Linked DNA regions of Homo sapiens. The protein of the gene in region 1 binds, or shares a complex with, the protein of each later gene. Each region holds a gene or a part of one and is shown in the gene's direction. Other genes may lie near its edges. The genes, in order: EIF4E2, TARS1, EIF4EBP1 and GIGYF2.

Evidence for each region.
Region 2: the proteins of EIF4E2 (region 1) and TARS1 are in contact, whole or in part, in a crystal structure (PDB 5XLN), measured with the Homo sapiens proteins. Residues at the interface, in NP_004837.1 of Homo sapiens: His54, Pro55, Leu56, Gln57, Val91, Glu92, Phe94, Trp95, Arg96, Glu149, Asn150, Leu153, Leu156, Gly157, Glu158, Gln159, Met161, Val203; in NP_001245366.1 of Homo sapiens: Pro51, Glu52, Tyr53, Ile54, Tyr55, Thr56, Arg57, Met60, Tyr61, Ile63, Leu64, Glu67.
Region 3: the proteins of EIF4E2 (region 1) and EIF4EBP1 are in contact, whole or in part, in a crystal structure (PDB 5NVN), measured with the Homo sapiens proteins. Residues at the interface, in NP_004837.1 of Homo sapiens: Glu53, His54, Pro55, Leu56, Gln57, Tyr58, Tyr64, Arg66, Lys83, Gln84, Ile85, Gly86, Val91, Glu92, Gln93, Trp95, Arg96, Phe97, Ser99, His100, Met101, Val102, Leu107, Phe113, Glu149, Asn150, Leu153, Gly157, Glu158, Gln159; in NP_004086.1 of Homo sapiens: Arg51, Ile52, Ile53, Tyr54, Asp55, Arg56, Phe58, Leu59, Met60, Cys62, Arg63, Ser65, Val67, Thr68, Lys69, Thr70, Pro71, Pro72, Asp74, Leu75, Pro76, Ile78, Pro79, Gly80, Val81, Thr82, Ser83.
Region 4: the proteins of EIF4E2 (region 1) and GIGYF2 are in contact, whole or in part, in a crystal structure (PDB 5NVM), measured with the Homo sapiens proteins. Residues at the interface, in NP_004837.1 of Homo sapiens: His54, Pro55, Leu56, Gln57, Tyr64, Arg66, Asn81, Lys83, Gln84, Ile85, Gly86, Thr87, Val91, Glu92, Phe94, Trp95, Arg96, Phe97, Ser99, His100, Met101, Val102, Leu107, Phe113, Glu149, Asn150, Leu153, Leu156, Gly157, Glu158; in NP_001096616.1 of Homo sapiens: Leu38, Ala39, Asp40, Tyr41, Arg42, Tyr43, Gly44, Arg45, Met48, Leu49, Leu51, Phe52, Leu53, Asn56, Lys57, Ile58, Pro59, Asp61, Leu62, Asp64, Glu66, Phe67, Pro69, Ile70, Leu71, Gln72.

The regions. Positions count from the first base shown.
Region 1 is NC_000002.12:232,546,171-232,553,688, forward strand, and holds the start of EIF4E2 (eukaryotic translation initiation factor 4E type 2), read left to right. Parts: upstream 1-4,518; 5' UTR 4,519-4,554; coding exon 4,555-4,574; intron 4,575-4,896; exon of another isoform or gene 4,897-5,043; coding exon of another isoform or gene 5,044-5,048; intron 5,049-7,518. Other genes in the region: TIGD1 (tigger transposable element-derived protein 1), read right to left, coding at 1,937-3,712. UniProt on the Homo sapiens protein: Recognizes and binds the 7-methylguanosine-containing mRNA cap during an early step in the initiation. Acts as a repressor of translation initiation.
Region 2 is NC_000005.10:33,464,958-33,468,611, forward strand, and holds the end of TARS1 (threonine--tRNA ligase 1, cytoplasmic), read left to right. Parts: intron 1-1,913; coding exon 1,914-2,028; intron 2,029-2,602; coding exon 2,603-2,751; 3' UTR 2,752-3,129; downstream 3,130-3,654. UniProt on the Homo sapiens protein: Catalyzes the attachment of threonine to tRNA(Thr) in a two-step reaction: threonine is first activated by ATP to form Thr-AMP and then transferred to the acceptor end of tRNA(Thr).
Region 3 is NC_000008.11:38,033,523-38,040,554, forward strand, and holds part of EIF4EBP1 (eukaryotic translation initiation factor 4E-binding protein 1), read left to right. Parts: intron 1-7,032. UniProt on the Homo sapiens protein: Repressor of translation initiation that regulates EIF4E activity by preventing its assembly into the eIF4F complex: hypophosphorylated form competes with EIF4G1/EIF4G3 and strongly binds to EIF4E, leading to repress translation.
Region 4 is NC_000002.12:232,840,316-232,847,347, forward strand, and holds part of GIGYF2 (GRB10-interacting GYF protein 2), read left to right. Parts: intron 1-3,730; coding exon 3,731-3,940; intron 3,941-4,053; coding exon 4,054-4,259; intron 4,260-5,416; coding exon 5,417-5,571; intron 5,572-7,032. UniProt on the Homo sapiens protein: Key component of the 4EHP-GYF2 complex, a multiprotein complex that acts as a repressor of translation initiation. In the 4EHP-GYF2 complex, acts as a factor that bridges EIF4E2 to ZFP36/TTP, linking translation repression with mRNA decay.

The DNA.
Region 1 (7,518 bases):
CCATACCAGCTGGCATCTCCCCCCCGTGCCTTCTGGGTACAATAAGCACCCAATTCTCAACAGCCCCAGTGGCCTTTCCATTCATGTGCATTTTTCTGCCACTGACCACAAGACGATTTCCTGAGTTTTGTAATCCTCTTTTTTTTTTTTTTTTTTTTAGTTTTTGATGTGTTGTTGTTGTTTTGTTTAGTTTTGAGATAGAGCCTCACTCTTGTCATGCAAGTTGGAGTGGAGTGGCATGATCATGGCTCACTGCAGCCTCAACCTCCAGGGCTCAAGCAATGCTCCTGCCTCAGCCTCCCAAGTAGCTGGCACCACAGGCATGCACCACTACACCCAGCTACTTTTAAATTTTTAGTAGAGATGAGGTTTTGCTATGTTGCCTAGGTTGGTCTTGAACTCCTGAGCTCAAGTGATCCTCCCACTTGAGTCTTGGGATTACAGGCATAAGCCACTGTACCTGGCCTCCTTTTTAATTAAGAGCTCCTCACAGCAGTATGGATAAGCAAGAGTCATTATTCCCCATGTTATATAGGCAAATTGAGCCTAGAGTAAGCGGGACTCCACACAACAGTGGTGGTTAAACAAGGTTTGAAGTCCAGAATTCCTGACTCTGACCCAATCTGACACTCTAAGATTCTACGGCCTGAAAAACAGGCCCTTCTTCCCAAAGGATGGTTAAGACAAGGAAGAGCTAGGCAAGAGGAGGTGTGGAGTTAACAGAGAGCCACTGAGCTCTTCATTCCAGGAGGAGACTTTGACTGGCCTCCCTTGACCCCACTAATCAGGTAGTAAGGCTGGGGTCTTCCTGGGGGAGAGGCAAGGTCCTGCTCTGAGATTACAGCCGGCACACGAGTTTGGCTGGTAACCAGGGGACACCCTTGGGCAAGTCACCTATGCTCCCTGAGGCTGTTCCCTCATCTGTAAATAAGGTGCAAAAAATAATCCATTCCTGGCCAGGTGTGGTGGCTCACACCTGCAATCCCAGCACCTTGGGAGGACAAGGTGGGTGGACTGCTTGAGCTCAGGAGCCCACGAACCCAGGAACCCAGCCTGGGCAACATGGGGACACCCGGCCTCTACCAAAAAATACAAAACTTAGCTGGGCGTGGTGATGCATGCCTGTAGTCCCAGTTACTCGGGAGGCTGAGGTGGGAGGATCGCTTGAGCCCAGGAGGTCTAGGCTGCAGTGAGCTGTGATCATGTGACTGCACTCCAGCCTGATGACACAGTAAGACCCTGTCTCAAAAAAAATAAAAAAATTACAAAACTGAAAAAAGAAAAGTGAAAGTGCCACATAAAGGCCTGACGACAGGATATGCTGGCAGGAGGGGACCTTGGAAATATGCCCTCCCTCCAAGCACAGGATTGCTGTCTTTGGGATTCAATCACCAGCAAGTTCGTATTATTTACTCCAGTGTGAGTCTGTGTCTGTGCATGCACAGTGTGTTTGAAGCAAGAGCAGAGTCAGAGCTATAGAGAACTAGAGGAGTTAGGGAGAGTGGGGGAGAACTTCAATCAGGGAGGGAATCTGATGACAGTGGGGCCATTTCCGGTTCCCACCAGCCCCTTACTAGTTGTGTATCTGGCACAAGTCTCTCAACCTCTCTGAAAGCCTCAGAGGGCAGAGGATTAGCTCCTTGTACACAATAAACACTCAAATGTTAACATTAGCTGCCATTACTATAAGTTACTGTCTCATGGGATCCATACAGCAACCTAAGGAGGTAGGTCGAGGCATACCTCAAAGACATTGCAGGTTCAGTTCCAGACCAACACAAGAAAGCAAGTCACATGAATGTTTTTGGTTTCCCAATGCATATAAAAGTTATGTTTACACTATACTGTAGACCAGCAAGAGTGCAATAGCATTGTCTAATAAAACAATATACATACCTAAATTTAAAAATACTTTATTGCTAAAAAATGCTGATTATCAATCTGAGCCTTCGGTGAGTCGTACTCTTTTTGCTGGTGGAGGGTCTTGCCTCGAGGTTGATGGTTGCTGACTGGTCAGGGTGGTGGCTGCTGAAGGTTGGGGTGGCTGTGGCAATTTCCTAAAATAAGACATCGGTGAAGCTTTTCGCATGAGTTGACTCTTCCTTTCATGAAAGATTTCTCTGTAGCATGCGATGCTGTTTGATAGCATTTTGCCCACAGTAGAGCTTCTTTCAAAATTGGAGTCAATCCTCTCAAACCCTGCTGCTGCTTTATCAACTAAGTTTATGTAATATTCTAAATCCTTTGTTGTCATTTCAACAATGTTCACAGCATCTTCACCAGGTGTAGATTCCATCTCAAGAAACCACTTTCTTTGCGCATCCATAAGAAACAACTCCTCATCTGTTAAAGTTTTATCATGAGATTGCAGCAATTCAGTTACATCTTCAGGCTCTACTTCTAATTCTAGTTCTTTTGCTATTTCCACCACATCTGCACTTACTTCCTCCACTGAAGTCTTGAACCCCTCATAGTCATCAATGAGGGTGGGAATCAACTTCTTCCAAACTCCTGTTAATGTTGACAATTTGACCTCCTCCCATGAATCACGAATGTTTTTAATGGCATCTAAAATGGTGAATCCTTTCCAGAAGGTTTTCAATTTGCTTTGCCCAGATCCATCAGAGACATCACTATCCATGGCAGCTAGAGCCTTATGAAATGTATTTCTCAAATAATAAGACTTGAAGGTCGAAATTACCCCTTGATCCATGGGCTGCAGAATGGATGTTGTGTTAGCAGGCATGAAAATAACATTAATCTCCTCGTATATCTCCATCAGAGCTCTTGGATGACTAGGGGCATTGTCAATGAGCAGTAATATTTTGAAAGGAATCTTCTTTTCTGAGCAGTAGGTCTCAACAGTGGGTTTAAAATATTCAGTAAACCACGCTGTAAACAGATGTGCTGTCATCCGGGCTTTGCTGTTCCATTTATATAGCACGGGTAGAGTAGATTTAGTATAATTCTTAAGGGCCCTAGGATTTTCAGAATGGTAAATAAGCATTGGCTTCAACTTAAAGTCACCAGCTGCATTAGCCCCTAACAAGAGAGTCAGCCTGTCCTTTGAAGCTTTGAAGCCAGGCACTGACTTCTCCTCTCTAGCTATGAAAGTTCTAGATGGCATCTTCTTCCAATAGAAGGCTGTTTCATCTACATTGAAAATCTGTTGTTTAGTGTAGCCACCTTCGTCAATGATCTTAGCTAAAGCTTCTGGATAACTTGCTGCAGCTTCTACATCAGCACTTGCTGCTTCACCTTGTGCTTTTATGTTATGGAAATGGCTTCTTTCCTTAAACCTCATGAACCAACCTCTGCTAGCTTCAAACTTTTCTTCTGCAGCTTCCACACCTCTCTCAGCTTTCATAGAGTTGAAGAGAGTTAGGGCTTTGTTCTGGATTAGGCTTTGGCTTAAGGGAATGTTGCGGCTGGTCTGATCTTCTATCCAGACCACTAAAACCTTCTCCATATCAGCAATAAGGCTGTTTCGCTTTCTTATCATTCGTGTGTTCATTGGAGTAGCACTTTTAACTTCCTTCAAGAACTTTTCCTTTGCATTTACAACTTGGCTAACTGTTTGCCGCAGGAGGCCTAGCCTTCGGCCTATCTCGGCTTTTGACATACCTTCCTCACTCAGTTTAATCATTTCTAGTTTTTGATTTAAAGTGAGAGATGTGCGACTCTTCCTTTCACTTGAGCACTTAGAGGCCATTGCAGAGTCATTAATTCGCCTAATCTCAATATTGTTGTGTCTCAGGGAATAGGGAGGCCCAAGAAGAGGGAGAGAGATGGGGAACGGTCTGTGGGTGGAGCGGTCAGAACACACACAACATTAAGTTCCACGTCTTATAAAAGACGCTGTATGTGGCACCCCAAAACAATGACAATAGCAACATCAAAGATCACTGATCATAGATCACCATAACAGACACAGAAATCATGAAAAAGTTTTAAATATTTTGAGAATTACCAAAATGTAACACAGAGACACCAAGTGAGCACATGCTGTTGGAAAAATGGCGCTGATACAATTGCTGGACTCAGGGCTGCCACAAACCCTCCATTTGTTTTCAGAATGCCCTATCTGCGAAGCGTAATAAAACGAGGTATGCCATAGTACAGTGGCGCCGCGACCGACAAAGGAAAGCCTCCGGGAGGTCAAAAGAGATACCAGAGAGTGCGTCCCGCACTGGAGGAAGAGGAAGGTTTTTACCAAGCAGCGAGTCCAGAGCCCGCGCCGTCAACGACGCGGTGCTGCCTTTTTTCCGAGCCGCTGCGGGAGGGGGCCAGGACACGCTCCCTTAGGAGAGCGGGCGGGTCACAAGGACCTGGACAGAGGCAGAACTGAGGCCAGCAGCCAGCTCCGCCGCTGAGTCCAGCCCTCTGCGCAGCCGCCCTGAGCTGGCGTCCCGAGATAGCCGCTTCCAAACCGGGCCTGCGCGCCGACGTTCCGCTGCGCCCCGCGCAAAACCGGAAGTACCCGGGCCCAAGGCTGAGGGACCCGGTGGAGCGGAAGTCACTCCCTGAGGCAGTGGCGACAGCGGCGGCGAGAGGATGAACAACAAGTTCGACGCGTGAGTGGCTCGTGGCCGCCCCCGGGGCCCCTTCCCCGAACAGTTCCCCCGCGCCCGCCCCCGCTGGGGCTGGGGCGGCGCAAACCCTGCGGCACCGGCTTCCCTGCTGGGATCCGGCTGCGGCCGGACCTGGCCTGGACTGGCGGGGAGGAGGGGGCTGGGGAGCAATGGATACCGGAGTCCCGGAGACCCCAGGGCCGTCCGAACCGAGGGCGAAGAGCTGGGCCCGGGGGAGGGGTGGCTGTGCCGCCCGGTAGGGGGAGATTTTCGGACGCCCCGCCCTGGTGGATGCGGATTGCCTGCGACGTGGAGGGGTGGGGACCTCGGCGGTTTGGGTGTTTCCGCAGTCTGGCAGCGCTGCCTCTGAATCCAGCTTTCCCCACACACTCCCTCTCCCCTCTGAGCCTCAGTTTTCTCATCTGCAGAGTGGGGACGGTAACACCCTTTGTCGTAGAGTTTGGAGGATGCAATGAGGTAATGTGGTTGCTGCCCTCGACGCGGTGGAAGGCTGGCTTAGGAATTATCTTCCTGAGACTCTTCCTACTTTCTTTCTCCTCCCCTTCCCGTTCCCGTCTTCCAACACACTCGCCAAGACCTAAGTATACTTGTTGCCCTCTCCTGCCCGCTCCGGTTTCTAGTTTCAGCATCAAACAGTTTGGAGGTACAGAGAGAAAATGCAGAAGTATCTTTACTTATCCCCCTCCAAGGATTGTATCTTGAGGTAGAATATGTTCCTTCCTCTCTTCTAGTAGTCTAGTAAATCGACTGTCTCTTCATCCGAAAACCTGGATTTCTAGTCCCAGATTCACCACTTACCATCTGTTTGACTGTAGAAAAGTTACCCAGCCTCTAAGCCATTGTTGCTCAAACCACATTAGTGGCTAGGACCCTGCTGCCACGCCGGGGTGTGATAAGGGTCAGATCACACTCAGCGATGCTTAAAGATGCTTGTGAACATTGCTAACTATTGCGATATAAACGTAAAGTGGAATTACTATTAGTTTAGGTTGTGACCTGGTGCTTTTGATGGGAAATTGGGGTGTTTCCAATACAGAGAGTACTGTGCAAATTCAGGGAATACTGGATTTCCAACACTCCAGGCAGGTAGGTCCTCAGGAATGTTTTCTGGTTGCTGAGAGGTCTCTGCTACTTGAGAAAGTCTTTGCCCGACCTCTTCTCTATCCTGCTGTTTAACTGAGCCTGTCCCTCTACGAACCTCTCCCCCGCTGCCGCCCCATTTCATCTCTATTGTAAACCCTGCAACAACTAGCTCCAGATCCAAATCCTGCCTCAGTGGAGCTTTCTGGAACCCTTATACCCCTTCCTCCACTGATTTGAACAAATCAAATGTCATCCTAAGAAGACATCTTATGGGTCATCTAGCTCAAGCCTACCCAAATCATTTGGGAGTCTGCAGTAAGAATGGTAATAATGGACTTCCACAGGGATCTTGCTAGGTATTTTTCATATATATATATATTTTTTGAGACAGGGTCTCGCTGTGTCACCCTGGCTGGAGTGCAGTGGTGTCATCACAGCTCACTGCCCACTCAACCTCCCGGGCACCAGCAATCCTCCCATCTCAGCCTCCAGAGTAGCCGGACTACAGGCATGTGCCACCCTACCTTGCTAATTTTTTTGTATTTTTTGTAGAGACGGGGTTTCGCCATGTTGCCCAGGCCGATCTCGAACTCGGGCTCAAGAGATCCACCCACCTTGCCTCCTAAAGTGCTGGGATTACAGGCATGAGCCACCACCCCCAGCCTCATATGTTATTTCTACTCTAACAATTCTGTGAAGGGGATCTTGTTGTCTCCTTTTACAGATGAGGAAAGTGAGACTCTGAGGTTAACTAATTCCCGACACAAAGGAAGGGCTATCCCAGGTTTGTTGTGTAACCTTGGTTCAAGCACCTCTTGAGAAAAATTAAACTTGCCCTCTTTTTTTTTCTTACCTCTTCTACGATTGAAGAACCTGGGTCATTTTAATTACTTTGAATTATTAACTATTGTATTGAGCCAGAATCTTTTAACATCTGCCCTCTAGCATTGCAGGAAAAAAAAAGAAAAACAAGCTTTCTTTCATTTGAAATTAGCAGTTGAAAACAGCACTCCTGCCCCTAGTTTTATTTTTTTATGTTGTTTTTCATTCAGAAATTCTGCGGTGTTTAGGCCATTGCTGCATATTTGGAGTCTTTACCACATTGCTCTCTCTAGTAATCTGCACTTTTTACCACATTGCTCTTAAGGACATGTTCCAGTTTGCCAGAATCCTTCCAGATGTCCAGTGGCTGGAGCTGAGTACAGTAGTATATAATCTAATGGGCTCATATTAAAGATTAGCTCTAATCTCCGTTACTGTATGGACTCAACTTCTCTGAATGAAACCTTTGATTGTAATTGCTTTTGTGGAGAAGGGGTAGACCTATCAAGTCCTTAGATCTCATTGCCATTGATCCTATTGATAACGTAAAACCGTAAGATGCTTTCACAAAAACTGCAGTCCTGACTTAAACATAGTTTTCAGATCTACACAACTGTACTTGATTTTGTCCGTATTCTACATCATTTGCTTTTTATTCTATATCGTTAACTTTGGGCCCATTCCTAACTATTGTCTAAACCACTTATTTGGCACTCATTGCTTTGATTCTATAGACCCATTCATTAAACGGAGATTTTTTTTTATGCCACTGTCTGATGGTGAGGGTATAAAGATGAATTGAACCAAGGTCCTGCCCACAAGGTATTGGTCTAGTTCAGAGGGTGAGGAAATACGTGGGCAGAAGCTTAGCAAGCTAACTAAAGTGCCTCTCAGTCTGGACAGTCTCAGAGTTGCTAACTGCCTGAGTTTAGGGAGCACTGATTTTTCAGTCTGAGTTGTATCTTGACTCAAATCCAGCTTGAAGCTGGGAAGAGTAGCTTGTAAGATTTGCCTTAAATGT
Region 2 (3,654 bases), on another chromosome or scaffold:
CAGGAGGCTGAGGCAGGAGAATGGAATGAACCCAGGAGGCGGAGCTTGCAGTGAGCCAAGATCATGCCACTGCACTCCAGCCTGGGTGACAGAGCAAGACTCCATCTCAAAAAAATAAATAAATAAAAACAAATAAATAAATAAAAAAAATGAAGTGAACACTAAACCATCTAATAGATAAACCATTCAGACTATTCCTGTTACTGCACTCAGTAGTTTTAGTTACAAATGATGACAATCAAAGTTATGTTCCATGGTTGAGTGCACTTTGTCTTATTTGTATGTGAAAACTCACACAGTAGGAAGAAGTTCTGTATTGGTTAACTGAGTTCTCAACTGGAGACAGCACTGACTTCCCCATTTCCCTTTGCGGGTAGGTGGCATTCCAGATTATGTGGTGGTAAGCTTTTCTTTTGCGGGGAGAGAAGACAGGGCAGTACTCCTGATACCTAATAACTATAGAGCAGACATGTTAAACACCCTGTAATTATCAGGCCACTTCCCCAACTGCAGAATTGCCCATCTCACGTGCACACACAGGACCCATGTTGAGAAAAATGAAGAAACTGATGCCTTATTCTTTAAAGTAGTTATAAGTTGAAGATGTAGACCTATCTTGGCATTCTAAAATTCTGTAACAACCCTTCTGAAATGGGTGTAATAAAATGTCAACAGGTTAATTGGTTCGTGATCACTGTGGCTTAAAAATCTAGTTAAAATGCTAAGACTTGTGCACAGTATAGGCAAAGTCACTTAGATTGTTTCAAAAAGTATGCCTTATAGAAATAAACATTTGACATACATAAATAACCCTTGGTTTACACATAACTCGCATTTGAGAAATGAATGTGTTGTAGATCATTTAGAATCTTTTTCAATCAAAAATTGAAAGAAATATTTCGTCACCCAGGTCAACCAGAGATTGCTGGTTTTACTCATGATACTTAAGTAGAGTATGATAGTTACTATTTCACCTTCAGCTGTACTTAAGATGTTTTCCTGGAAAAATTCATTCTGCTTTCTGACCAGGATTTCCAGAAACTCTGACCCTTCTAAGAGGTCTGGGTGGAATTGTGATGGTGATTCTGCTAGTAGACAGTGTAACTTCTGCGTCTACAAAAAGAGGATAGGCCGTCACTGCTCACATGGCTTTGCGTGAAAGCCCAATGGTACTGTCTCTATGGCAGAGATGAGGAAGGAACACCAGCGTCCTCCAACTTTCCTGTTCTTCCTTTGGGTTAATGGCCACTGTAAGGAAACAGTTTTCTGCCACGTGTGGGGTGATTTGAATGTAAAATGCCCAACTCTCATAGCAGGCTGAACAGAAACATTTTTTATACTCATTGTTAATTTGTTCTAATCTAAATTACTTTTAGACTATTAAATATTATTCTATTTTAAAGTTAAGGGACTAATGCCTCTGATAACCTGATTAAAAAAAAAAACTTTCTGATACTCAGAAGTTAAGATTTATTCAGTTGAAGATCATTTCTTTCAGGTGTTGATCGTGTGATATTTTTCACATCTGTAATCTGAGGTTCATATGAAATGATAGTGAAATAAAATTGTTCATTTAGGTCTTTTTGTCATGTTAATATGTTATCAGGTTAATGGGAAGTTTAATCTAGTTAATGTAAAATTAATAAATTGTAATCTAGTTTATTGCTTTTTTGGAAAAGAATACTGAAAACATTGTTTACTTAATACACATGACCTGAGGTAATAAAGAGGAGCTGGCCTTTTTGAGGGGGGAATAATGGCAGTGAATAATATTATCTAAGACAGTTTTGCCAGCTTTAAATTCCTGGAAGTTCATCCAAGAAGTCCTGATCCCTGTGTTCAGTAAAATCATGTGAGATCAAAATATAATTCTGATTTTAGATCTGACAAATTCTGTATCTCTGTTACAATAGGTACGACAACAATTCCACGATGCCAAATTCATGGCAGACATTGATCTGGATCCAGGCTGTACATTGAATAAAAAGATTCGAAATGCACAGTTAGCACAGTATAACTTCATTTTAGGTAAGAATGGAAACTTACCAAAGAAAATTTGCCACACCTCAGGAAAATCTACTGAAACCTTGAGACAGGTTTAAGTGAATTGTAATCAAGAATTTATTTAGTTCCTTCCAGTCCTGATTTTTTTTCTATTATATATTTTAATATATAATAACTATAAAAATAGGCTCATGCATACATACTGGGTTTTTTTTTTTTTCACTTAAATCATGGATGTCTGTGAGAAAATATTTTGCTATTATAACAAGAATGAAGACGCATTGCTTTTAAACACATCTATTGGATTACTTTCTCAAGATAATGCCTTATGTGGGATTACTTGAAAAAAGATATTCATGATGTTTGGGGTTTTATTATTTGGTTGTTACGTTGTCTAGATTGACTCCATAAGCACAGTAGTTTTAGATATTGCAAAGAGTTTCTTTTAAATATCAACACATGGTCACTTGTACCTTTTAATGTATCAGAAGCTATGGGGTAGGTTTTGGGTCCTAGGATCATTTCTTTTCAGATGTTCAGTGTGAATTCTTCCATATCTTTAGATTAAGTCTGACAAAGCTTTGTGTGTTTGTTTTAGTTGTTGGTGAAAAAGAGAAAATCAGTGGCACTGTTAATATCCGCACAAGAGACAATAAGGTCCACGGGGAACGCACCATTTCTGAAACTATCGAGCGGCTACAGCAGCTCAAAGAGTTCCGCAGCAAACAGGCAGAAGAAGAATTTTAATGAAAAAATTACCCAGATTGGCTCCATGGAAAAGGAGGAACAGCGTTTCCGTAAAATTGACTTTGTACTCTGAAAACGTCAATTTATATTGAACTTGGAGGAGTTTGGCAAAGTCTGAATAGGTCAACCTGCAGGCGTAACTATTTTTGACCTAGTCAGTTTTTAAACAATGTGCATTTGAAGGAGTTAATTAAAAGAGAGCCAATAAAATGATTTTACTCATTCAGTATCTGAGTACTGGAAGTGAAACATGAGGAATGCTTTAGTGTAATGTGGGAGAACTTTTTTGTAAATTTAATGCAATTGAAAAAGTTTTCAAATTCAATTAAGATAACTAGAATTGGATTATGGTGTAAAAATAAAAAAAAAATTTATTCACATAAGTTTCAAGACTGCTCTGTCCCTCACATGTACACATACATGCCTGAGACAGATAATGTGGTTCAGTATTTATCTTTACAGTTTTACAGCAAATATAATGCAGGGTGGATGGAGACGGGGTAGGTCTGCAGCATCATAATGCTATTCATAAACTGGGTGTGAGCTGGGTGCTGGCTTCTCAGAGGATAAACACTTTTGGGAGTGTCATTTTTACTTAATGTTGGATGGACACCTTTTCAAACAAAAACTACCATGGATCTATTACAGAGTAGATTTGCACAAATGTTTAAGATAAAACGTGAATCTTCAGAGAAATATCTGTTTATGGCAGACTGTTCTGGACCATAGAATCACTTGGTTTACAAATTCCCTATTTTCTCATAAGGGATCATTTTCAAAATCTTCTACCAATAAATGGTGATTGAAAGGACAGCACAAAGTAAATAATTTCTTATGTGGATAAATACTAATTCCTCCTTGTTAGAATGATATTTTAAAAGTAACATCTTTTTTTTAATTTTT
Region 3 (7,032 bases), on another chromosome or scaffold:
TCTAAATCGTGGTGTGGAGAGCCAGGCTTTTGATAGAGTGTCTGCATGGCTGTCTGCACCTGCTTACTTATAGGGACTGTCAGCTTCTCAGGAAAAACCATTGGAGTAAGTACCCCCCAGTCACTCCTGCTGGGAATGGCCCTCAAGTGATTGTCCCTGGAGGGAAAGAAGCAGCAGTTGGGTTGCACTATCTCCATTCCTATGACTCCAGTTTGCTTTCCTTTTTTTTTTTTTTTTTTTTTGAGATGGAGTTTCGCTTTGTCGCCCAAGCTGGAGTGCAATGGTGAGATCTTGGCTCACTGCAAGCTCCGCCTCCCGGGTTCACGCCATTCTCTTGCCTCAGCCTCCCAAGTAGCTGGGACTACAGGCGCCCGCGATCAAGCCCGGCTGATTTTTTGTGTTTTTAGTAGAGACAGGGTTTCACCGTGTTAGCCAGGATGGTCTCGATCTCCTGACCTCGTGATCCGCCTGCATTGGCCTCCCAAAGTACTGGGATTACAGGCGTGAGCCACTGCACCCGGCCCTTTTTTTGTTTTTTTCCTGAGACAGGGTCTCATGGTGTCACCCAGGCTGGAGTACAGTGGCACAAACATAGCTCACTGCAGTCTCAAACTCCTGGGCTCAAGTGATCCTCCTGCCTCAGCCTTGCAAGTAGCTGGGACTATAGGCACGTGCCACCATGCCCTGCTAATTTTTTTATTTTTTTGTAGAGGCAGGGTCTCTATGTATTACCCAGGCTGGCCTCAAACTCCTGGGCTCAAGCAGTCCTCCCACCTCAGCCTCCCAAACTGCTGGGATTGTAGGCATGAGTCACCTCACCTGGCCTCCAGTTTGCTTTCCATGGTCATTAACCATTTGCACACTGAGGCTCTGCTCTGAGGTTAGCTGTCCAGAGTACTTAAGATAATTTAATTGCCGAAGGGAGTGTCATGTATGAATATTTGAGTCTGTGGAGTCTTAAAAATATCCAGCGACACCATAAACAGCTCATTAGCCAGCAGAACCTTTGAGTGGGTCAGAAAGAAACTTTCCCTCATCAATCTCCACATTCCCAGCTCCGTGTTGCATGTTTGACTCTGAAGCCTATATACAGGCTTGGATGGCAGTTGTGCCAAAGACCCGTACCTGGATAAGGTGAATCCGAGGTGAGCAGGTAGGGCTGCAGGTGTTAATGGCACCCTGTTTGGTTAAGCAAACAAGGTCTGTGCCCAGGAAGCTTACCTTGGAGCAGCTCCCAAGTCTTTGGACATGAAACAGGCAGTGCTGGGAAGAAGGGGATGTAGGCTGGGCACCAAAGCCAGAGCACAGCCCATGTCCTGAGGCCTTAGTCACATGGAGGGAAGAAATTATTAAGGATGGGTTAAAAGAGCTTGGACATTAATGCAGTGAGGGAGAAACGATGGACCCTCTTCTCACATTTACCTGAGCTTCCTTTTAAAGTGTTTGAAGGAGCTGGGTGCGGTGGCTCACTCCTGTAATCCCAGCTATTAGGAAGGCTGAGACAGGAAAATTACTTGAGGCCAGGAGTTCAAGACCAGCCTGAGCAACATAGTGAGACTCTGTCGGTATAAATTAAATAAATAAAATTTTTTAAAGTGTTGGAAGCATTCCACACTGTGTCCCTTATTAAAGATTTGGTGGGGGGTTCCTGGTGTAGAGCACTCCAAAATCCCTCCAATCCCCAGACTCCTTTTTATTATTATTATTATTTTGAGACAGAGTTTCGCTCTTGTTGCCCAGGCTGGAGTGCAGTGGTGCAATCTTGGCACACTGCAACCTACGCCTCCTGGGTTCAAGTGATTCTCCTGCCTCAGCCTCCCAAGTAGCTGGGATTACAGGCATGTGCCACCACACCCGGCTAATTTTTGTATTTTTATTAGAGACAGGGTTTCACCATGTTAGTCAGGCTGGTCTCAAACTCCTGACCTCAGGTGATCCACCCGCCTCAGCTTCCCAAAGTGCTGGGATTACAGGCATGAGCCACCACACCCGGCCTTATTATTTTATTTTATTTTATTTTATTTTTGAGGCAGTCTAACTCTGTCGCCCAGGCTAGAGTGCAGTGGCATGATTTCAGCTCACTGCAGCCTCCACCTGCCAGGTTCAGGCTGAGACAGGAGAATCCCGGGTAGCTGGGATGACAGGCACGCACCACCATGCCCAGCTAATTATTTATTTATTTATTTATTTATTATTATTTTCCTCAAGATGGAGCCTTGCTCTGTCGCCCAGGCTGGAGTGCAATGGTGCGATCTCGGCTCACTGCAACCTCCACCTCCTGGGTTCAAGCAATTCTCCTGCCTCAGCCTCCCGAATAGCTGGGTTTACAGGCGCGCTACCACGCCTGGCTAATTTTTTGTATTTTTAGTAGAGATGGGGTTTCACCACGTTGGCCAGGCTGGTCTCGAACTCCTGACCTCGTGATCCGCCCGCCTCAGCCTCCCAAAGTGCTGACATTACAGCCATGAGTCACCGCGCCCGGCCTATTTTATTTTATTTTTGAGGCAGAGTCTCATTCTGTCACCCAGGCTGGAGTGCAGTGGCACCGTCTCAGCTCACTGCAGCATCCGCCTCCTGAGTTCAAGCAATTCTCCTGCCTCGGCCTCCCGAGTAGCTGGGACCACAAACCCGGCTATTTATTTTTGTAGAGACAGGGTCATGCTTTGCTTCTGAGTCTGACCCTCTAGTTTTTTATTATTTGAAAGGAGAGGCCAGGTGCGATGGCTCACACCTGTAATCCCAGCACTTTGGGAGGCTAAGCAGATCACCTGAGGTCAGGAGTTCAAGACCAGCTTGGCCAACATGGTGAAACCCCATCTCTAATAAAAATACAAAAAAAAATTAGCCGGGCCTGGTGGCAGGCGCCTGTAATCCCAGCTACACAGGAGGCTGAGGCACGAGACTCACTCGAACGATTCTGGGTGACAAGAGTGAAACTCCGTCTCAAAGAAAAAAGAGAGAGAGTTTGATTTTTTTGCTTCCTAAAAGACCAAAAAAGTCCTTCATTGCCAAATCTGAGGAAAAAGGGTCAGCAGAGCAATACCATATTTATCCATTGACATAAAGTAGCGAGGCATTTTCTCATATAGACCTTTATTTTCATGTTCTGGAAGATGAGTTAGGAAGGCACAGCAATATTGTTTCTTCTTTTTTTTTTAATTTGAAACAGGGTCTCACTTTGTCACCCAGGCTGGAGTGCAGTTGCAGCCTCAACCTCCTGGGCTCAAGCAATCCTCCCATCTCAGCCTCCCAAGTAGCTGGGACTACAGGCATGCACCACCACAACCGGCTAATTTTTGTATTTTTTGGTAGAGATGAGGTTTCGCCATGTTGCCCAGGCTGGCCTCAAACTCCTGAGCTCAAGTAATCCACCCGCCTTGACCTCCCAAAGTTCTGGGATTAGAGGCATGCTCCACTGTGCTTGGCCTGGGAAGGCACAGCAATATTGAAAAAAAGGAACATTGCTTTCTAAGGTGAGTTTTAAAAAAAAAAAATGTTCAGTTGTGCACATAGATTCTTGCCTGTGCCAACAAACCCATGAAAAACCTGTTTCTTTCTGGTCTGACTTAGACCCATGCCTGGGGTCTCTCTCCATTATGATTCATAGCGAATGAATCACACGTTTTTGTTTACGTGTTTGTTCCCTAGGTTAGCCAGGAAATTTTTTCTGAGCAGTCTTACTCATCTTTGTATCCACATGACCTAATGCCAGGTCTAGTGTCTGGAAGGTGAAGAGTTGAAAAGAATGCTGGAATGAAAGCGTTCCCCTCAGGATAACCTAGTTTTCTTATTTTATTTATTTATTTATTTTTGAGACTGAGTCTTGCTCTGTCGCCCAGGCTGGAGTGCAGTGGCATGATCTCAGCTCACTGCAACCTCCACCTCCCTGGTTCAAGTGACTCTCCTGCCTCGCCTCCTGAGTAGCTGGGATTACAGGCACGCACCACCACACCCAGCTAATTTTTGTATTTTTAGTAGAGACGGGGTTTACCATGTTGGCCAGGATGGTCTCAATCTCCTGACCTTGTGATCCACCCGCCTCGACCTCCCAAAATGCTGGGATTACAGGCGTGAGCTACCATGCCTGGTCAGGATAACCTAGTTTTCTTACTGTCAGGCCTGAGTCTCCGCTGGCTTAATGATGACGTTTAAATTTCCTTTTCTGTCCTTTCAGTTGCAGGGTATAAGTGTTTATCTCAGAATGTCCCAGGGGCAGAAACTAACTTTCTCTGTTTTGATGATGTTGTCTGTTTTTTGTTTGTTTGTTTTTTGAGACAAAGTCTTACTCTGTTGCAGGTTGGAGTACAGTGGCACGATCATGCCTCACTGCAGTCTCAACCCCCTGAGCTCAGGTGATCCTTTTGCCTCAGCCTCTCCAGTAGCTGGGACTACAGGCACACACCACCACGCCTGGCTAATCTTTAAATTTTTAGTAGTGACAGAGTTTTGTCATGTTGCCCAGGCTGGTCTGGAACTCCTGGGCTCAAGAGATCCACCACCTCAGCCTCCCAAAACACTGGGATTACAGGCGTGAGCCACTGGACCAGCCAGAGAATAACCTTCTCTGAACCCTCCTACTTATCCTCATACAGATAGTCCCCGATTATGATGGTGTGACTACAATTTTTGACTTTACGATGGTATGAAAGTGATATGTGTTCAGTAGGAATTGTACTTTTAAAAATTGTTTTAAGACAGATTCTTGGCCGGACACGGTGGCTCATGCCTGTAATCCCAGCACTTTGGGAGGCTGAGGTGGGTGGATCACGAGGTCAAGAGATAGAGACCATCCTGGCTAACATGGTGAAACCCCGTCTCTACTAAAAGTACAAAAAATTAGCCAGGTGTGGTGGCACACACCTGTACTCCCAGCTACTCAGGAGGCTGAGGCAGAAGAATCGCTTGAACCCGGGAGACAGAGGTTGCAGTGAGCCGAGATCACGCCACTGCACTCCAGCCTGGGAGACAGAGCAAGACTCCATCTCAAAAAAAAAAAAAAAGGCAGAGTCTTGTTCTATTACCTACATTAGAGTGCATTGGCATGATATCGGCTCACTGCAACCTCCGCCTCTCAGGCTCAAGCAATCCTCCCACCTCAGTCTCTCAAGTAGCTGGGATTACAGGTGTGCGCCACCACGCCCAGCCTAGAAATTGTACATTGAATTGTGAATTTTGATCTGTTTCTGGGCCAGCGATACGAGGTACATGCTCTCGAGATGCTCAGCAGGGACAGTGAGCTGCAGCTCCCATTTAGCCCCACAAACATGAGGACAAATGGCCAGTCACAAGCTTGTCCAACCCGAGACCCTCAGGCCACATGCACTCTGGACAGCTTTGAATGAGGCCCAATACAAGTCCGTAAACTTCCTTAAAACATTATGAAATTTCTTTCTTTTTTTTTTTTTTTTAAGCTCAGCTGGAGTGCAATGGCACAATCTCGGCTCACTGCAACCTCTGCCTCCCAGGTTCAAGTGATTCTCCTGCCTCAGCCTCCTGAGTAGCTGGGATTACAGGCACGCGCAACCACACCCAGCTAATTTTGTATTTTTAGTAGAAATGGTGTTTCTCTATATTGGTCAGGCTGGTCTCGAACTCCCAAGCTCAGGTGATCCGCCCACCTCGTCCTCCCAAAGTGTTGGGATTACAGGCGTGAGCCACCACACCCAGCCAGTGTTAGTGTATTTTATGTGTAGTCCAAGACAATTCTTCTTCCAGTGTGGCCCAGGGAAGCCAGAAGATTGGACAGCCCACTATAGAGTCTATAGTGTGCTGTGTTGCCAGGTGGTTTTGTCCAACTGTAGGCTAATGTAAGTGTTCTGAGCACATTTAAGGTAGGGAAGGCTAAGCTATAATGTTCAGTAGGTTAGGTGTACTAAATACTTTTTTTTTTTTTTTTTTTTTGAGTTGGAGTGTTGCTCTATCGCCCAGGCTGGAGTGCAGTGGTGCAATCTCTGCTCACTACAGCCTCTGCCTCCCAGGTTCAAGCCATTCTCCTGCCTCAGCCTCTTGAGTAGCTGGGATTATAGGCGTGTGCCACCACACCCAGCTAATTTGTATTTTTAGTAGAGATGGGGTTTCACCATGTTGGCCAGGCTGGTCTCAAACTCCTGACCTCAAGTGATCTGCCCGCCTCAGCCTCCCAAAGTGCTGGAATTACAGGCGTGAGCCACTGCACCTGGCCCTAAATGCATTTTTGACTTAAGATATTTTCTATGTATGGTGGATTTATTGGGACATACTTCATTTTAAGTCAAGGAACATTTGTATTAAACAGTATTGCTGGTATTTCTTGTCCCAATATTACCGAACAGGGAGTGGATGTGACTTTTTTTCTTTTTTTTAAAAAGCAAAAACAAAAAACTTTTAACAGATAGGGCCTCACCTCTGTGGCCCAGGCTGGAGTGTCTATGGGCTGAAGTACAGTGGCGCGATCACCACTCACTGTAACTTTGAGCTCCTGGGCTCAAGCAATCTTCCTGCCTCAGCTTCCCGAGTAGCTGGGACCACAGGCACATGCTACCACACCTGGCTAATTTTTATTTTTTGTAGAGATGAGGTCTATGTTGCCCAGGCTGGTCTTGAACTCCTGGCCTCAGGCAATCCTCCTGCCTCAACCTCCCAAAGCATTGGGATTACAGATGTGAGCCACTGCATCTGGCAACTTTTTCTTACACTGAACAAGCCAGTATTGGGGCCGGGGTCTCAGACACTGTGACTGATGCTGTTTATTTACCTGTTTGCATCCAGCATTGCTGACAAGGCAAGAGTAAGTAACTGCTGCTCACTGACATTTGGGTATGCACAGCAAAGGGCTCCATGTAATCTGATGGTTATGCCCATGAAAGCTCATTAAGAGAGCTCAGATACTAGGCCCAGAGGATCAGGGCTTCTTAGGTGTGCAGGGACACTTGGTGAAAATGGTTGTATCAGTTAGCTATTGCTATATAACAAGCCATCCCCAAACAGTAACTAAACAGCAGCGATTTGTTATTGTTCTCCATCTTTTGGGTTCGTTGGGTTCTTTGTAGATCT
Region 4 (7,032 bases), 290 kb from region 1:
GTTTTTCTCTAAAGACACTGGGTTCCCTGACTAGTCTAGAAAAATGTGACAGAAATAAAGTACCTCTGCTTTTAAGTGTATATCCTGTAGTTCATCATTAGGGTAGGAAGGATACAAAAGAGTATAAAAGGGAAGGGGAATAACACAGCTTTTGACAGAGAGGAGAAAATGAATAATTTTCATAGTTTGGTTCAGTATGCCATTCGGTGCTCATTCATTCATTCATTCATTCATTCATTCAACACATGTTTACTGAGTACCTACTCACTTAAGGTCTGGGGATATAGCTGAGTCTAAAACAGGCAAGATTTTCTGCATTCATGAAGCTGACCCTCTGATTGAGAAGAGAAAAGTAGAAAATGAAGCGTATGAGAGGTTGATAAGTGTCAGAGAGGTAACAAGGGAAGGTGGGTAGGGAGAGTGTTGGGAGTCAGGGATAATGATGGTGTGGTGGATTGTCCAAATTTAGGTAGTGTGTTCTGAGAAGGCCTCTGAAAAGGTGACATAATATAGCAGAGTCTTGAAGATGCTTTATGTGGATATGATTTGAGGTAGAGCAGTCAATTTGTTAGAGAATGTAAGTTGTCATTTTTGGATCTGGGTCATGTGGTTCACTGAAATTAGGAGGGCTTTGGATACACAAGGAGAAATAGAAATTGTCTATATGTGTTTACCAGGTAGTGTGCTTGAAGTCATCCAGTAAGATAAGATGTTTCTTCACACTTGAAGATGACCTTATTTCCCACCTTTATTTAAGAAAAAAAAAAAAAAGAATTGAACTTTCTCTGGAATCATCTTTCTCTAAAAGGTTATCAACAAATGGATGCAGAACAGAGTATGTCTCTCCCTTCAAAGCTAGAAATTATTCCACTAATTTTGGTCCCTACTGAATGAGAAGATAATAATAGTGGTAATGACAAGGAATCACAGGTCTTCTCCTGTCTACCAGAAGTTAATAATTATTTCATTCGTGTTTTCTTTTTCTTTTTTTTCTTTTAGAGACTGAGGCTCGCTCTGTCACCCAGGCAGGAGTGCAGTGGCGCGATCTCGGCTCACTGCAGCCTCCACCTCCTGAGTTCAAGTGATTCTCCTGCCTCAGCCTCCCGAGTAGCTGGGATTACAGGCACTTGCCACCACCACCAGCTATTTTTTTTTTTTTTTTTTTTTTTAAGTATTTTTAGTAGAGACGGAGTTTCACCATGTTGGCCAGGCTGGTTTCAAACTCCTGACCTCAAGTGATCCACCCGCCTCGGCCTCCCAAAGTGCTGGAATAACAGACATGAGCCACCGTGCCCTGCCTTCATTTGTATTTTCATTTAATTTTCTTGGAACTTTTAAGTCTCCCTGTACCCTTTATAAGGGTGCCTCTTAATACACATTTCACATATTTCTTACGTAGAAAAACCCAAGATGATTTTATTTCATTATCATCCCTGGAGGCATCCTTTCTGGGGGCCTCTAACCTGTTCCAATCAGGACACTCTCAGCTTGCTTTATAGCTGCTGTTTTGTTTTTCTTGAGTTCCTGTTATTTACATGTTTCTCCCAGGACTGATTTTGATTTTCTCATGTTTTTTCTCCTGTTTTCCATCTCTGTGCTTTTATCTTTTTTGATAAGATCTTGCTGTGTCTCCTGGGCTGGAATGTAGCTAGGACTACAGGTGTGTGCCACCATGCCTGGCTAATTTAAAAAAAAATTTTTTTTTTTTTGAGACGGGTGTCACTGCATTACCTGGGCTGCCCTCAAACTCCTGAGCTCAAGCGATCTTCCCACCTTGGCCTCCCAAAGTGTTGGGATTATAGGCATGGGCCACCACGCCCTACCCTTTTTATCTTTTCTATGGGGCATTTTCTCAGTTTTACCTGCAGTCCTTCTATTGGGCTTCTCCTGTTAGAGACAGGGTCTTGCTCTGTCACCCAGGCTGGAGTGCAGTGGTGTGATGGTAACTCACTGTAACCTTGAACTCCTGAGCTCAAGTGATTCTCCTGCCTAGGCTTCCCAAAATGTTGGGTATTACAGGCATGAGCTACCACACCTGGCCCTGTTGAGCTTTTAATATATGCTATATCAAACATCTGTGAGTCCTTATTTTGTTCTTTAAGTATTTTTTATAGCCTTTTATTGTTTCATTAAATGCACCATCTTACCTCTCTAAGGATATTACTTACTGATAGCTTCTTAAAAAGCCAACTCCTATTTTGCCGTTCTCTTATTTCTATTTCTGCTGAATTATTTTTGTTTTGGTCTTTGGCTTTTATGTTAGAAGTTTATGTCAAATGTTTGGTAATTCTGGGCTGTTTGTTCCTATTTACAAATAAGGCACTCAGAAGCTGATTGGAGGTTCTGGTATGTACAGCACCTTGATGGGCTTTCCTATAATAGATTCTGGCTGGGTTGTTCTGTTGGGGACCTCCACCCCCACCCCCACTCCAATTTGTTGGTACCTACTTATAGGTGTGTTCTCTTGTCAAGCTGGTTGGCTTCCCCACAGGATAATGTGCCAGTCTGATTTGGCTTCTTCAGACAGGGAATGTTCGGTTTTCTGCTGTGGTGAGGGAGAGTGAATTGCCTAACTGCACAGAGTGCGGGAGGCAATCTGGAGTCTTACTGCTTCTTTTTACAGCCTTTCAACCAGTCTTCCTCTGTTTGAGAGACTCAGCACCTCCAGTTCCTGAGCCTTCTTTGTGAATCTGCCTGTTTCTGAGCTCCTTTACTTAGATTTCAATTTATTAGGTCTGTTACATTGGTTCTCATTATTTATCTGCTTTTCAGATTTTAAAAAATCTATTCTGTTTTCTTTGTCCTCATGTGTTTATGCTGTGTGTGTGTGTGTGTGTGTGTGTGTGTGTGTGTGTGTGTGTGTGTGTATAATCTGTCATTTTGGTGGGGGCTTTAGGAAGTAAACATGTGTTTTATTTCTGTGCTTAACCAAAAGCCTACTTAATTTTTAAGAAGTAATTCTGGCCAGGCTCGGTGGCTCACTCCTGTAATCCTAGCACTTTGGGAGGCTGAGGCGGGTGGATTACAAGGTCAGGAGTTCAAGGCCAGCCTGACCAACATGGTGAAACCCCGTCTCTACTAAAAATACAAAAATTAGCCAGGCGTGGTGTGGTGGCAGGCGCCTGTAATCCCAGCTACTCAGGAGGCCGAGGCAGGAGAATTACTTGAACCCGGGAGGCGGAGGTTGCAGTGAGCTGAGATCGTGCCATTGCACTCCAGTCTGGGCGACAGAGCGAGACCCTGTCTCAAAAAAAAAAAAAAAAAAAGTAATTCTGAGGCCGGGCACTGTGGCTCATGCCTGTAATCCCAGCACTTTGGGAAGCCGAGGTGGGCAGATCGCTTGAGGCCAGGAGTTCGAGACCAGCCCGGCCAATATGGTGAAATCCCATCTCTACTAAAAATACAAAAAATTAACCGGGCATTGTGGCTTGAACCTGGGAGGCGGAGGTTCCAGTGGGCTGAGAGTGTGCCACTGCACTCCAGCCTGGGCGGAAGAGTGAGACACAGTCTCAACAACAATAAAAAAAGAAGTAATTTTGCATTTCATGTTTTTATTCTCCTTTTTAATACTGTTAGCGATTTACATTTTTATTTGCAACAGCAGAATTTAATCCCATCAAGTTAATTTTATGTAGCTACTGTGTATTTACATTCCATTTAGTATACTGGATATTTATAACTATTATCTAAAAACAGGAATCCTCAGCTAGCTTCTGTTTTTATGCAACAGCAAAGGCGCCAGCAGAGGGAGTTGATGAAAGCTCTTCAGCAGCAGCAGCAACAGCAACAGCAGAAACTCTCAGGTTGGGGGAATGTCAGCAAACCTTCAGGTACCACGAAATCTCTTCTGGAGATCCAGCAGGAAGAGGCCAGGCAAATGCAAAAGCAGCAGCAGCAGCAGCAGCAACACCAGCAACCAAACAGAGCTCGTAACAATACGGTGTGTGCATTTTCCTAAGCTGTCGTTGTATGGACTAGTATTATCTTTTCTGACTGTCTTCTTATCTTTTTAACATGATTCACGATAATCATTTTTCTCTTTTTCTTTAACAGCATTCCAACCTGCACACCAGCATTGGGAATTCTGTTTGGGGCTCTATAAATACTGGTCCTCCTAACCAGTGGGCATCTGACCTAGTCAGTAGTATTTGGAGTAATGCTGACACTAAAAACTCCAACATGGGATTCTGGGATGATGCAGTGAAAGAGGTGGGACCTAGGAATTCAACAAATAAAAATAAAAACAACGCCAGTCTCAGGTAGGGCTCAAAATGACCACACCTATGCACCTTGGTTGGTTGGGAGGTGGGGATGGAGGAAGTGGGATGTTGGGTGGGCAGGAAAAGGTAGTTATTGAGTTTTTGCTTACCGTTTTCATCTGTGTTCAAGCACATGCAGTCATAATTATGGTGATTGCTTTCTTCCCCATAGAAACACATTCGTATTATTTCTTGGGGCTCCTGCTGAGCACTTATTCTATCGCCTAGCACATGGTAACCACTTAATAAATATTAGGAATAGTATAATGTTTTTGTTGTGTTGTTGAACATTTCTCCAAGGTATTCTCTAGATACCTTAGCATTTTTCCTATATTTGTATTTTTAAGTAATTTATGCTATTAATATGAGTATTATAAAATACCTCTGTAATGACCTTAAACCTATTTATTTTTATAAGTTAGTTACATTTTCATCTTCATCTTTCTTTCTTCAATATACAGTGTTGTTGAACGAGCATGGGTTTTAGTGTTAAATACATGAACTCAAATCCCAGCACTACCACTTATTAGCTGTGTGACCTTGGGCAAGAGGGAACCTCTTTGGGCCTCAGTTCCCTCATCGGTAAAATGAAGATAATAATAACAACTTTATGCATGTAATTGTAAAGATTAAATGAATACATGATAAGTAGTAAGTGCCTGGCACATAGTAACTACTTAATAAATGGTAGTGTTGTCAGATTGTTTCTTCTTGATTTAGGGCCTAACATATTATGAATAGAACAATAAATTTCTGTTAGTTTATTGAGCATCTTTGCCAGGCACTGTGCTGTAGGCCTTTTCATAGAACATCTTTATTACTTATGATAACCCAAAAAAGTTGTTAGTACCGTTTTACAGATGAGGAGACTGAGGCTTAGTAAAATTAAACAACTTACCTAAGGACACGTAGGAAGAATTTCATCATTTTTTCTAAGTAGAACCCCTGTATCCACAAATTAGGATATATTAACTGAGGCTAGATTTTAAGGGTATATCCAATCCAAATATTTGAATTTTTTTCTTTTTTGGAGCCAAGCATTGGATTATTTACTGGGCATCCATCCAGTATTGCCAAGACATTATTTATGGTGTTGTACTATAATCATATAGTAACAGTTTCTGGGAATATAATATCACCCTATTGTTTTGCTTTAGTAAATCTGTAGGTGTGTCTAACCGGCAGAATAAGAAAGTAGAAGAAGAAGAAAAGTTGCTGAAGCTCTTTCAGGGAGTAAATAAAGCCCAAGATGGATTTACGCAGTGGTGTGAACAGATGCTTCATGCCCTTAATACGGCAAATAACTTGGATGGTAAGAATTGGGGAGGGAAACCCGGCATGTGGAATGACAGAGCAGGACCCACAGAGAGGCTGGCAAATTTGAACAGTGGGCCAAAAGTCAAAAGATGAAATCTAAGGAGGTCAACTGCTGCACCTGCCATAGGAACTTGACTCTTTAATAGTATTACTTGTGAGAAAAGTCCAGTAATACTAAACTCAAATAGATTATTGGTGGTTGTCAAAAAGTAAATGCCATCTTAGACTGCCTTAATGATACACAGGACAGAGGAGGTCTTAGTTCCATACTGTTCATTTTATGGGGAACATTGCCAGCTATGTCAAGTTAAAAAAAGTAACTCTCATGCTGGGGACAAAGGTCAACCTGGACAAGTGATGGCTGAAGTGATGTGACATCATTCCCTTTCTACCTTTGGGGGAGGGAATGGGAATTGTGATAAAGCAAGTACACTTATTTTGTGTAAGATAAAACTAGGACCAATGTGCAGAAGTGAAAAGGCTTTGGCACAGTTTAGAGAAAAACTTGCTCATGGTTAGCTGTTTACAAACAGAACTGTCTCCCATCCCTGAATATTTGAAGAGAGACTGGTCAACATGTCAGGATTCCCCTAACTAATAGGCTGAATTGAATTAATCCACCTCTGATACCCTGTCTAAAGCCAAGAAACTGTGAAAAATAGCAGTAAAGGAATTAAAGAGTTCCTTTGCAGCAGTGTAACAATATCTAATGGTTTAAAAGCCTACAGAGAAAACAATTTTAAATAACAGTAATGGCTGCCATGCATTAAGCACCTACCATGTGTGCTAGGCACTCTCTTGGAGTTAACATGCAGCATCCCAGTTATTTGATTAGCAGTGATTTTTAAAGATACCTTTACAAGATAGGTGATATTATCCCCATTTTATAAATTAGGAAACAGAGGCTCAGAATGGTTAAATAACTCATCAAGGTCACACAGCCAGCAAATTTCAGAGTCAGGTTTTAAACCCATGTTTGTCTAACTCTGATACTCATGCTTTTCTCCTATACCACACACTGCTTACATTTTCCATTTGATTTCTCTCTAAAAAATCTCAGTGGATTGAAAGTTCCAGGAAGATATAGCTGTTTTCTTTAGTGTATGTTGTAGTGCCTGACACATATCATAGGAGTTAATAAATACTGATTGAATTTGAGGGTTCTTAAGGAAAGAATGAATCCCCAAATTACTTCAGCCTTAGTCAAGTAACTGTTTCAGTCAGTATAACATTCAGTGAAATTAAACATGTGGTATGGATGTTGTGATTATAGTGTTTTTTTCATTTCTATAGGGTAGATAAAAGAATATTTAAACACAATTGCTGCATACTTACCAAGTGTCTGTCATTAATGTTTGATTAGGTATAAAGATACATTAAAAATGGAAACTGATTTTTGTAAGTTCTCTTTCATTATTTCATTGTTACCCTTATCTTCTCCCCTCCCGTTTTGCAG